3 linked regions of the Homo sapiens genome follow. The protein of the gene in region 3 purifies or fractionates together with the protein of the main gene of each other region. This does not show direct contact. Each region holds a gene or a part of one and is shown on either strand. Other genes may lie near its edges.

What was found.
Region 1: the proteins of RAD51B (region 3) and SATB2 purify together in Homo sapiens (affinity purification with mass spectrometry; one large-scale study listed by BioGRID and IntAct). This does not show direct contact.
Region 2: the proteins of RAD51B (region 3) and MTR purify together in Homo sapiens (affinity purification with mass spectrometry; one large-scale study listed by BioGRID and IntAct). This does not show direct contact.

Annotation. Positions count from the first base shown.
Region 1 is NC_000002.12:199,325,400-199,329,054, reverse strand, and holds part of SATB2 (DNA-binding protein SATB2), read left to right. Parts: intron 1-144; coding exon 145-357; intron 358-3,655. UniProt on the Homo sapiens protein: Binds to DNA, at nuclear matrix- or scaffold-associated regions. Thought to recognize the sugar-phosphate structure of double-stranded DNA.
Region 2 is NC_000001.11:236,798,234-236,801,888, reverse strand, and holds part of MTR (methionine synthase), read right to left. Parts: intron 1-3,655. UniProt on the Homo sapiens protein: Catalyzes the transfer of a methyl group from methylcob(III)alamin (MeCbl) to homocysteine, yielding enzyme-bound cob(I)alamin and methionine in the cytosol. MeCbl is an active form of cobalamin (vitamin B12) used as a cofactor for methionine biosynthesis.
Region 3 is NC_000014.9:67,864,763-67,868,417, reverse strand, and holds part of RAD51B (DNA repair protein RAD51 homolog 2), read right to left. Parts: intron 3,631-3,655; exon of another isoform or gene 3,533-3,630; intron 3,416-3,532; coding exon 3,279-3,415; intron 1-3,278. UniProt on the Homo sapiens protein: Involved in the homologous recombination repair (HRR) pathway of double-stranded DNA breaks arising during DNA replication or induced by DNA-damaging agents. May promote the assembly of presynaptic RAD51 nucleoprotein filaments.

The sequences.
Region 1 (3,655 bases), on a different chromosome or scaffold from region 3:
AGAACCCTAAGGAATTAGTGTGAGGTTCTTGACATCACAGCGAGCTGGTTAAACCAAACAAAGGAGGAGAGGGGTGGAAGACAGAAACCACACACATATACCTGCAAATGTGACTTGGTCTGTTTTTTTCCCCCATTTAATCAGGGATTGTTGTCTGAGATTCTGCGTAAGGAAGAAGACCCTCGGACAGCCTCTCAGTCTCTTCTAGTAAACCTGAGGGCCATGCAGAATTTCCTCAATCTGCCAGAAGTGGAGCGAGATCGCATCTACCAGGATGAGAGGGAGCGGAGCATGAATCCCAATGTGAGCATGGTCTCCTCGGCCTCCAGCAGTCCCAGCTCCTCCCGAACCCCTCAGGTGAGAAACTTGCTTTCCGTATTTTTCACTCTTTGTCTTGGAAACATCTTGCCTTCACTAGTTACTGTGTTTTCCCTCAAACATTGAGAGACATAATTCAAGGATTTCTTTCCTTTTTTTCTTTTCTTATTTTATTTTATTTTATTTTAATTTTTTTGAGATGGAGTCTTGCTTTGTCACACAGGCTGGAGTGCAGTAGCATGATCTCGGCTCACTGCAGCCTCCGCCTCCTGGGTTCAAGGAATTCTCCTGTCTCAGCCTCCCAAGTAGCTGGCATTAGAGGCACCAACCACCATGCCCTGCTAATTTTTGTATTTTTTGTAGGGATGGGGTTTCACCATGTTGGCCAGGCTCTTCTCGAACTCCTGACCTCAGGTGATCCGCTTGCCTTGGTCTCCCAAAGTGCTGGGATTACAGGCGTGAGCCACCGTCCATGGCCAATTCTATGATTTCTTAATCCGCTGAACATGTTGGTCAGAGGATATGAACTTCTGACCATATATGATCCCATACTATATTTCTGTCCCTTTAGGAAGTCCCATTCTTCCATACGTGGTAGGTGAGGGGTAGGAAGGTAGGAGTGGGCACAGGGGCGGGCTCTAGGATGTTTATACATAGCTGCTCAGTTAGGAGTTAGGGCATTTGTGTTGAAGCTGAGTTTGCATAGCAAGCACACTGCTTTCCCTCAAATTGTATGTTTATTTGGTTGGGCTGGATGGGGTAGAGGTGGCTGAGGGCAGGGGGCAGAGGGTAGTTGAAGCTCTGTTTTATGTAATCTGAAAAAGACAAAATGGAGGAACACTTGCAGTGGAAGCATGCATATGCAGTGTCCAGATCAGAATGACTGAGATGTCACTCAATGATCCTTTAGAAAATGATGGTGGAAAGGTAGGCCTTAATTATTTTCCATCCTAGGATGATCTCCCCACAGAATTTGGTGACTTCCATTCTTCCTCTCCACACACTTGAAAAGTATTCTTTTCTTAGGCCCTCATGCAAATGTATACATCTAGTAATGTGTGCTTCAAAGCTCCTAACTCAAGGGTCAAGGTCTCAAGGCAGTCAGGGGTCATTTCTAGTTCACATCCAAGCCCACTCATTTCTGGCCTATCCCCTATTTCCCCTAAACTTTTACTACTCGATAGATTTATGATAAGGCCAGTCCGTTCACTGTTGCTATGATAGTTGCAGGTTCTGTCTGAGTGCTAATTCTCAAAACCAGTATTTAACAGGTATAAATTTTTTTTGTTTGTTTTTGAGAAGGAGTCTCACTTTGTTGCCCAGGCTGGAGTGCAGTGGTGTGATCATGGCTTACTGCAGCCTCTGCTTCTCAGGTTCAAGTGATTCTCCTGCCTCGGCCTCCCGAGTAGCTGGGATTACAGGCACATGCCACCACACCAGGGTAATTTTTTGTATTTTTAGTAGAGGTTGGGTTTCACCATGTTGTCCATGCTGGTCTCGAACTCCTGACCTCAAGTAATCTGCCCACCTCGGCCTTGCAAAGTGCTGGGATTACAGGCATGAGCCACCGTGCCCGACCTAATGGATATACATTTATACAAAGCTGAAAAATGGGCGGTTCAAAACCAAAGGTTGTTTTGCTTAGATATTATAGCTTTGGTTTTGCGTTTTCTGATAAATTCTAAGGAACTGATTAAGCATAGAAGCAGAATTGTATCCTAGTAGAAATATTTGAGCTTTTTCAAGTATATCCATTTTTTCACACATTTTAACTCTTTTTATATTTTTGTACTCTGCAATAAACTTTTAATTGAAGATTACTTTCTATCATGCACTGCCAAATTGTGTTACTTACACTTCAGTCTTTAGTGAATTATGAGTTTTAGTTACTGTTTGAACCAAAAATAAGTCTCTTGACTGCTTACTTTGGATGAGTATAACCAAGCATTTTTGTTTACTTAAAAAAAAATCTGGGGACATACATACTGAGCTAGTAAGTTGGGCAAGTTGTTAATGTGCACTAATATTTACTTCTGCTAAATTCATCAATATTTTTGCCACTTTTGAAGCCCATTAAACCATTATAGAAGAGCCCAGGCATACTTCATGGCCATTTGACAAGGCAGCTCTTCTTAGAAAGTTACTTCTGCTTGTTAGAAATTAACACAGGTCTGTGTATTTGTTTTCAGCTCTTTTGTACTATTTTCCTAACAAGATTATATATCGTAGGCACCTTTTCAAAGACCTAATAGCTTTCAGTGCCAGACTGACTTACAAGGCCCCACAGTTAGGGTCAGTATTTTGCTTATTTTGACCAGAATGCCATCTAGAAAATTCATACAGATGCCCTTTAGGGATAGGTGTAGCAGGGAAATCTCTTATTTAATATCACAGTTTTGATATTTTTGAAAATAAATATTTAAACATGTTTTTGAGAATACGGTCATGGCATTGCATTTGTACATTCTCTAGAATTGTCTTTTTCTCTTGGGTAAAGATTGAGAAAGGAGAGTTTATTAAAGTCTTTTAAAACATTTCATGATTACTGACTTAAAATTCTTTACAGTCATATCTCAACAGTAAAGATCGTAGTACAGTACAGATTTTATTGTGAGAACAAGTATTAGAGGAGTACTCACTGACTCAGCCTTTTAGTTGGAGTCAGCAATTTAGTGCACACAAGCAGCTTGACATTGATGCAGGGAGATTATTTTCCAGACCCCATCTATACTTTATTAGTAGCTGAAAAACAAATTGAAGAAATTTGAAATTTGAAATTATACCTCCAGTCTCTTTTTATTTCTTCAGCTGGCCAGCATTCCATGGTGTACTTAATAATGACAAAACAATACTAAGATAAGAATGATCATTTGTTAAAACGCTTACTGTGTATTAGGTGTTGTGAACATTTTGCATGAATTCAGTTGTCACCATTTTATGGTATTATGCCCATTTTACAGATGAGGGAACTGAGGTTTAGATGGATTCAGTAACTTGTGTAAGGGCACATGGCTGAGGGGTTTCGTCTTAGCCCTCATGGTTGGAGAGAAGGCTTGACCAATCAGGTAGGATGAGATAGTCAGTGAGGCAAATTAAGAAAACTGAATTGAGAAAGGGCAGACATGCTATGCTAAAACGTTCTCTTAACAGGGAAAGCACTGTGGGTTAACTAGAAATTTTGAGCAGAACAAATAGTTTATTTTAAAAAATTACAGATAATTGAATTTTTAATGGGAAAGTCCCAACATAGCAAGAAAATTCTTACAACAGCACCTGGCATAAATTGGAGATTTTGGAGGCAGTGTGTAGTGCAGTGTCCTGAGCCCATGTTTTTGAG
Region 2 (3,655 bases), on a different chromosome or scaffold from region 3:
CCATCCTGTGCACCACTACCAGATTTATCTTCCTATACAACAATTTTAAACCAGTTGCTTCCCCTGCTCAAACACCTTCAACAACTCCCTATAGCATATCAGACTGAATACATGTTACTCAAAACAAACCATAATGACGCCAACCCATTCCTTCTGTGCTAAGAGGCGAGAAAAGCTCAAGTCAAATGGGGCTGGTTCTAAGCTATCTGAGCTCCTTGGAACTCATGCCTAGCAACACTAAGGTCAGTACTTGGCAAATATTTCTTTAATTGAAATGACAAAAAAGTGAGGGAAGATGAGAAAGAAGAGGCAAAGATAATTTAAAACCCAAACCAGTAATGTAAGAATATTTGTAAGCTGGTATTGGGTGCAAACTTACAACCCTGCCTCGTCTTACTGTCCAGAGTCTCAAGTATACAATATGAGAACTGGGGCTAAATGGTGGTCACAGAACTATTTTGAGTGACTTTCTCCAAGTGGGCTTCAGGAAGGTGGCTCTAGTAACCTAAAAGAAAAATTTGCAATATCCAATATCTAGTTTCTGGGCACTATGTTTCTTTCAGGGTGTACTATTCCTTTCCAAAGCCACCTCACTTGCTAATTGTGTTTACTGAACTTGCAGGTGAGATAAAACACTTCCTGATAAAGGAACGAAGTTAAGCTCCAATGATCTGTACAAAAGTACTTCAAGAACCAAAGAAAATCACTTCTTGGGAAATGTGGAGAAAAGGTAGGGCTTAATGAAGCATGTATAATAGAAAGACTGGTAGGCATCAGGCAGTGGGCGCCATTTCAAGCTATAGTCGACACGGTAAATTCACATGTAGTGTTAATTTAGGCACTCCATGATGTGACTATCCTATCAGCCAATAAGCACTCAGAATTTGATAGGCTTAAGCTAATAGTAGCAGGGTGTGAAAACCCAAGAAATCTGGGTTTTAGCCCCAGCTCCCCTTAGTAGCTATGGGATTTTAGACAAGTCCTCTCCATGCTTCAGCAAGATGAGGAAACATCAGCCCTGCCTTCATCATCAGAACTGTGATACTAAAATGAGACCATGTGTTAAGAACTGGACCTCTTAAGTCACACAAGTCATGAAATGAGACATTGGTGTTTGATGTATAGTAAACATCTGATAAATATTAGCTACTCTTATTATGTTGGTATTATAGCACAGCAAGGACTGAAGCTCTAAAGATTGTGTTCTATATATTACAAAGCTCAGTGGGCTGTGAAAAATCATGTAAAGCCTGAAGCTCTCAGTTGGTCATGTTGGGGCAGGAATGGCATATTTGCAGGTTGGGAAATGTCTTCTAACAGTCGAGTGAAAGAAGAAAATACTCAGTGAAAGCTGTTAAATGTAGATAATTTCACAGGAGGAATGAGAAGACTAAGAACTAAAGACTCTAACCTACATGCCCAGCTGAATCGCTTTCTTCTCAAAAGGATGTAGCTGCAATTCTCCCTGAAATGACATCACGTGAACTTAAGTGGGTGACTGAATCATAAGCCTAGTGTGAGCATGAGGTGTGGCAGTGGGGAAATAGGTCATGCACATGAAATTTCATATTTAAAAGGTATTCAAACTTCCTAGGGAGAAAAAGGCAATCTTTTCCACAGACAGTGAAGTATGTCCTTTGGCATCGGCAAAATGATTAATCAATATCAATCAATATCCTATTATTTACATGTCCTTCTTCCTATCTCCTCCACTGAGCGAGTGCACACAAGTTGAGCAAATCTAACCACTCAGAGTGCCTCCACCCCTCATTTTCATAAAAAGTCTTAGTACTTTTCCATGGGGCCCTTACTGTATTCCCTTTTCAATCCAGAAATAATAAGCTTTGTTTTTGGACTTTAAGACAGTTCACTATTTACCACAAAACAACCCAGCCCCACACATGCAAATTCTGGCATCTTGTTTGTTGAGCCACCGTATAGGCAAGAGATCAAAAGCTGTTTAAAAACATCTGCTTTGGTTTTTCAGAAACCTGACAAACTTATTGTATAATTTATTGGGAAGAACTTTATGACTTCGAATGAAAAGGAACTTCTTAAGACTCAAAAAGACCAACCTCTTAATTTAAAAAAAAAAAACACAATGAATTTGATTACATAAAAACCAAGGATTTCTGTTAAACGAAAGTCACCATAGACAAAAATAATAGACGATGGGTTGGGGGAGATTCTTCAATGTCTAAAGCTAATTTGTTTTCTTATTGATTTGTGTTAGTTCCTTGTACATTCCAGAATGTAATATACAATGTGAATTAAAAATACCTATAGACTAGAGTTTACAACAAAATGTATAAATATATGGATATATGTGAAAAAGGCGGTCTATGGAAACAAGAGAATTGTGAATAGAAAATACAGATAAAAAGGAATATATAATAAAACACAGGAATTTTGCAGCCTGAATAAAAAACTCCTATGCAACTGAGGCCCTTAAAAATCCATTACTTGGGCTGGGTGTGGTGGTTCACACTTGTAATCCCAACACTTTGGGAGACCAAAGTAGGTGGATCACTGAGTCCACGAGTTCGAAAACAGCCTGGGCAACACAGTGGCCTCATCTCTACAAAAAAAAAAAACAAAAATTAGCCAAGCCTGGTAGTATGCACCTGTAGTCCCAGCTACTAGTAAGGCTGAGGCAAGAAAACTGCTTGAGCCTGGGAAGTCGAGGCTGCAGTGAACCGTGATCACGCCACTGCCCTCAGCTTGGGCAACAGAGTGAGACTGTCTCAAGAAAAAGGGGGAAAAAAAAAAACATAGTTTCCTCAACTACTTGCTTATTTTTCCTTTAGAGGATAATGTAAGATTTCCCATTTAGAGAAACTAAGAAGTCTTCCTTCAGAAAATCTGTTGGTATTAAGTGTTCACTATTTTTAGCCTTCTGTATTCCTCCAGTTTTTCCAGTAGGAGGTCATTTTTCACTGGGCTTTAATTACCATTCTAATTCACCAGTTTCCAATTACTATCAGAACTTGCTCAAAAGAATAAGTCACCTTGACAATTCCTTCCCCTGGCAGAGTGGGGATCTACTGAAATGTCACTCTTCCATGAAGAACAACAAAATTGTATTTATCTGTATTCAGTTCATTAGGTCTAGAACATTCTGTATACTTAACTACTGACTAGTCAAGTTCTAAATAAAGCAGATTCTTTCTGATTATCTTTCACAGTAAATATAAGAATATAGTTTTGCAGTTCCTTTACTTAGCTGACTAGTTATAACACTATTTCAGAAATATTTTTATGTTTAATGTATATATGTAAATAACCGCAGTGCAGAGGAGAGTCCCAAGGAACATCCTTGGCTAGTGAGCCTAAGAGATCACACAGTATTTTCTCCAGTTTTGAGTGGATTTAGCCAATATATTTTGTGGGGTTTTTTTCCGTGCCCTTAACATCTTATTTTCTAGCTAACAATATTCTGATTCACAGCAAGTGTTCCAAAGAATAAACATAGGTATAAGTGGTTAAAGCCCTAGTCAGATTTGGAGGGGGGTAGACCAGCTAGTACCACCTTTAAGAACTAGCCTAAAGAATGACAAGATGAAGGCCTAAACAAATAAATTCCTAATATGTGCATGTAAGTTATAAATTGCAGTGTCAAGAACACATCTGCTCTGAAGGTAAAATGACCCCAAAT
Region 3 (3,655 bases):
GTGCGGGATATAATCTCCTGATGCTCTGTTTTTTAAGCCCGTCGGAAAAGCACAGTATTCGGGTGGGAGTGACCCGATTTTCCAGGTGCCGTCTGTCACCCCTTTCTTTGACTCGGAAAGGGAACTCCCTGACCCCTTGCGCTTCCCGAGTGAGGCAATGCCTCGCCCTGCTTCGGCTTGCATGTGGTGCGGGCACCCACTGACCTGCGCCCACTGTTTGGCACTCCCTAGTGAGATGAACCCGGTACCTCAGATGGAAATGCAGAAATCACCCATCTTCTGCGTCGCTCATGCTGGGAGCTGTAGACCAGAGCTGTTCCTATTCGGCCATCTTGGCTCCTCCCTCTTTAATACATTTTAAACCTAAGTAGTTTGTATTTATTCCTCCTTTGATTTCTCTCTCCTTCTTAGTAAAAAGATATCTAGATATTTATAGGAAGAAATTATTTTCAACTTTTTCTCACGTACCCTAAATTCTATATATGTGAATCCTTTAATCCTTCATCATATTAATCCTTTAAACACTTTCTCATTTGTGCTGGTTAGCCGGCTAGCTTTGCAAGCACAAAGTGGAGACAATGTGAACACATACAGAGCTACAACATAGTCCTTTTTGCGTCTCATATTTCCCTGCCTTACCTCTTCTCTAAGTCCAGAAACAGCTGGGGCTGGGACAGAAACTGTTAATTACCAATCCAATATCCATTTCCACTTCTTCCTCGCTATGAGAGCCCCAGTTTTATTCAGGCAGCAATATTAACCAGACAACTCATCATGATTGTTACGACGATCTTCTCCCCTCACTTTCCCAGCCTCTTTTTACATATAGAGGTGACTCAGTGAGAAATCTACAAGAGGACTACAGGCAACAAAAAGGAAATCCACAGATGGGAGGAGGCAGATATTATGAATAAAAGTACACTTTCCTGATAAAAGATATAGCTGGCCCTTTTTCTTCACACTGACTTGAGCACAGAATGAATCCGATGTCTGAAAATGTGCATGCCCTAGGTCTCTCTGTCATCACTGAGACCTGAGTGACCCAGTGCCAGCAACCACCTACTCAGGTCTTGTTATATGAGAGAAATAAACCTCTTTTTGTTTAAGCTACTGTTCTTTGGATACTCAGTTATCTGCAGCAGTAAGCTTTCCTAACCGATTGGCCAACCTTTCCTGATAATTCCAAATAGGGGTTAAGCTGTCCTGTAACAGAATGAATGAAATGTGATCAGACACTACAGGGCCAGTTCCATTCTATGACCCACCATGACAAACTAGAAGGTAGTATAAGAATGCCAAATCTGGCATATATATCGGAGAGCATTCATATTTTTTATTCTACTTGGCCCTATCACCAGACCTCAAAATCCATTCCATGTGTGAGCCAGATGATCACTCATTTTAAGCCTTGTGGAGAATGGAATAAAAAACCAAATACAATATAAAGTTCAACCCCTATTCTCAAATGACCTTCATAAGAGCTCCTTGTGAACTATGCAACGTAATTCCAACAAAGGAGCTAAAATATTACCTCTTCATTTTCCAACCTGCCTCTGATGTAAATACCAACATGCACATTGGCAGAAAAAGATATGAAGGAGAAATAAGTAAATATGGGGGATTCAAAAAGTAAATAATTAAGGCTCTATGCAAAGACAAAAAACATAAGACTCTCCACAAATTCATTTGGAAAATGCAGACAAGTCACCTGCTAGTCTTCTGTATGTATGCTGATATCACCCAATTCATTGATAAGGTTTTTACACTGCTCTGAACTGTAATACTGGTAATAAAATAACATGCAACAGTTTCCTCCTTAAGAAGACATCCTAAACTCTGTTTTGTATGTGGTGCAAAGAAAGCAGAAATCCATTACAGTGAACTGAACTGCTGTTATAAAAATAATCTTAATCTTTGAATTCTTTACCCAAATTCCCCAGGACCTTTGTAAGAGCTATTTGAACATTAGCTATTTATGACATAACTGGCTATTTAATACCTACTTGGCTTGTTAGTCGAAGGCTAGTCATTGGCATTTTAAAGAGTACTTGGACAATTTGAGTGAACCAGTCTTTACCAGCTTTAATCTCAAATATATTTTCATGTTCAAATTTCCAGTAGTCTCAATGTTTATTCTTCTGTTCTTTTTTTTAACCATTTATTTAAGTCAAGATCCAAATAAGTTAATCACACAGCAATTGATCAATAAGGCTTTTAAATCTGTTTTAATCCAAAGGTTCCCCTTCCAACTATTTTTTAATCTTACAATTTATTTGTTACAGAAACCAAGTTGTTTGTTCTGTTATTTCCCACAGTTTGGATTCTGCTAATTGCATTTTCTAGAGCAGTTTGATGTGTTCCTCTCTTCTCTAGCTAGGTTGTAAATTGGTGGCTGGATCTGAAGCCTTGATCACATTCAAATTTGATTGTTCTTCCATCAGAAAGTACCCCAGTGACTCGTCATCTTTTTGTGATGTTAAATGCCTAGATCCATTAGATTGTCAGAGTTTGTAATTTGGTGATATTCTATCATTCCTTATTCATTTACTACTGGGATACATTTATAAAAAGACCAATTTAGGCCAGGCGCAGTGGCTCACACCTGTAATCCCGGCACTTTGGGAGGCCAAGGCAGGCGGATCACAAGGTCAGGAGTTCAAGAGCAGTCTGGCCAATAAGGTGAAACACTGTCTCTACTAAAAATACAAAAATTAGCTAGGCCTGGTGGTAGGGCGCCTGTAATCCCAGCTACTCAGGAGGCTGAGACAGGAGAATCGCTTGAACCCGGGAGGCGGAGGTTGCAGTGAGCTGAGATCCTGCCACTGAACTCCAACCTGGGCGACAGAGAGAGACTCCATCTCAAAAAAAAAAAAAAAAAAAAAGCCAGGCACAGTGGCTCACGCCTATAATCCCAGCACTTTGGGAGGCCAAGGTGGGCAGATCACTTGAGGCCAGAAGTTCAATACCAGCTTGGCCAACATGGTGAAACCCTGTCTCTACTAAAAATAGAATAATTAGCCAGGTGTGGTGGTGCATACCTGTAGTCTCAGCTACTCGGGAGGCTGAGGCAGGAGAATCGCTTGAACCCAAGAGGTGGAGATTGCCATGAGCCCAGATCGTGCCACTGCACTCCAGCCCGGCAACAGAGCAAGACTCCATCTCAAAAAAAAAAAAAAGGCAAGGGGGAGGGGTGGTAAATGTTAACCTATGTGTAAATGTTTCATGCTGTATATAAGTTACAAAAGTAAAACATTATAATAGAAAATAAAATCTCATACCTTTCAGCACTAAATGCAGACTCTGTGTCAATGTACACCACAGCTCCTTCTAATCCTCCCATGTTGGTGGGTAATGTAGCCAAAATGCTCATCATTATACAAAACTGAGTTTTTCCACAACCTGGTGGACCTGTAATCTAAAAAAAAAAAAAAAAAAAAAAAAAAAAAAAAAAAAAAAGTTTTTTAGATAAACATCACAAGCCAGTCAAAGCAAAATCCTTTTAAGACTTTGCCATATATGCAGTCCAACTAACCTGGGTTCCCAGGAGAGAATTAAGCCCAAGACATCCATTGTATGGAATGAATTAACTTCTCCCCTCTGCATCTGAATTGGCACTAGTTATGTACCATCCTTGGAGGAATTGAGAAAATAGTCA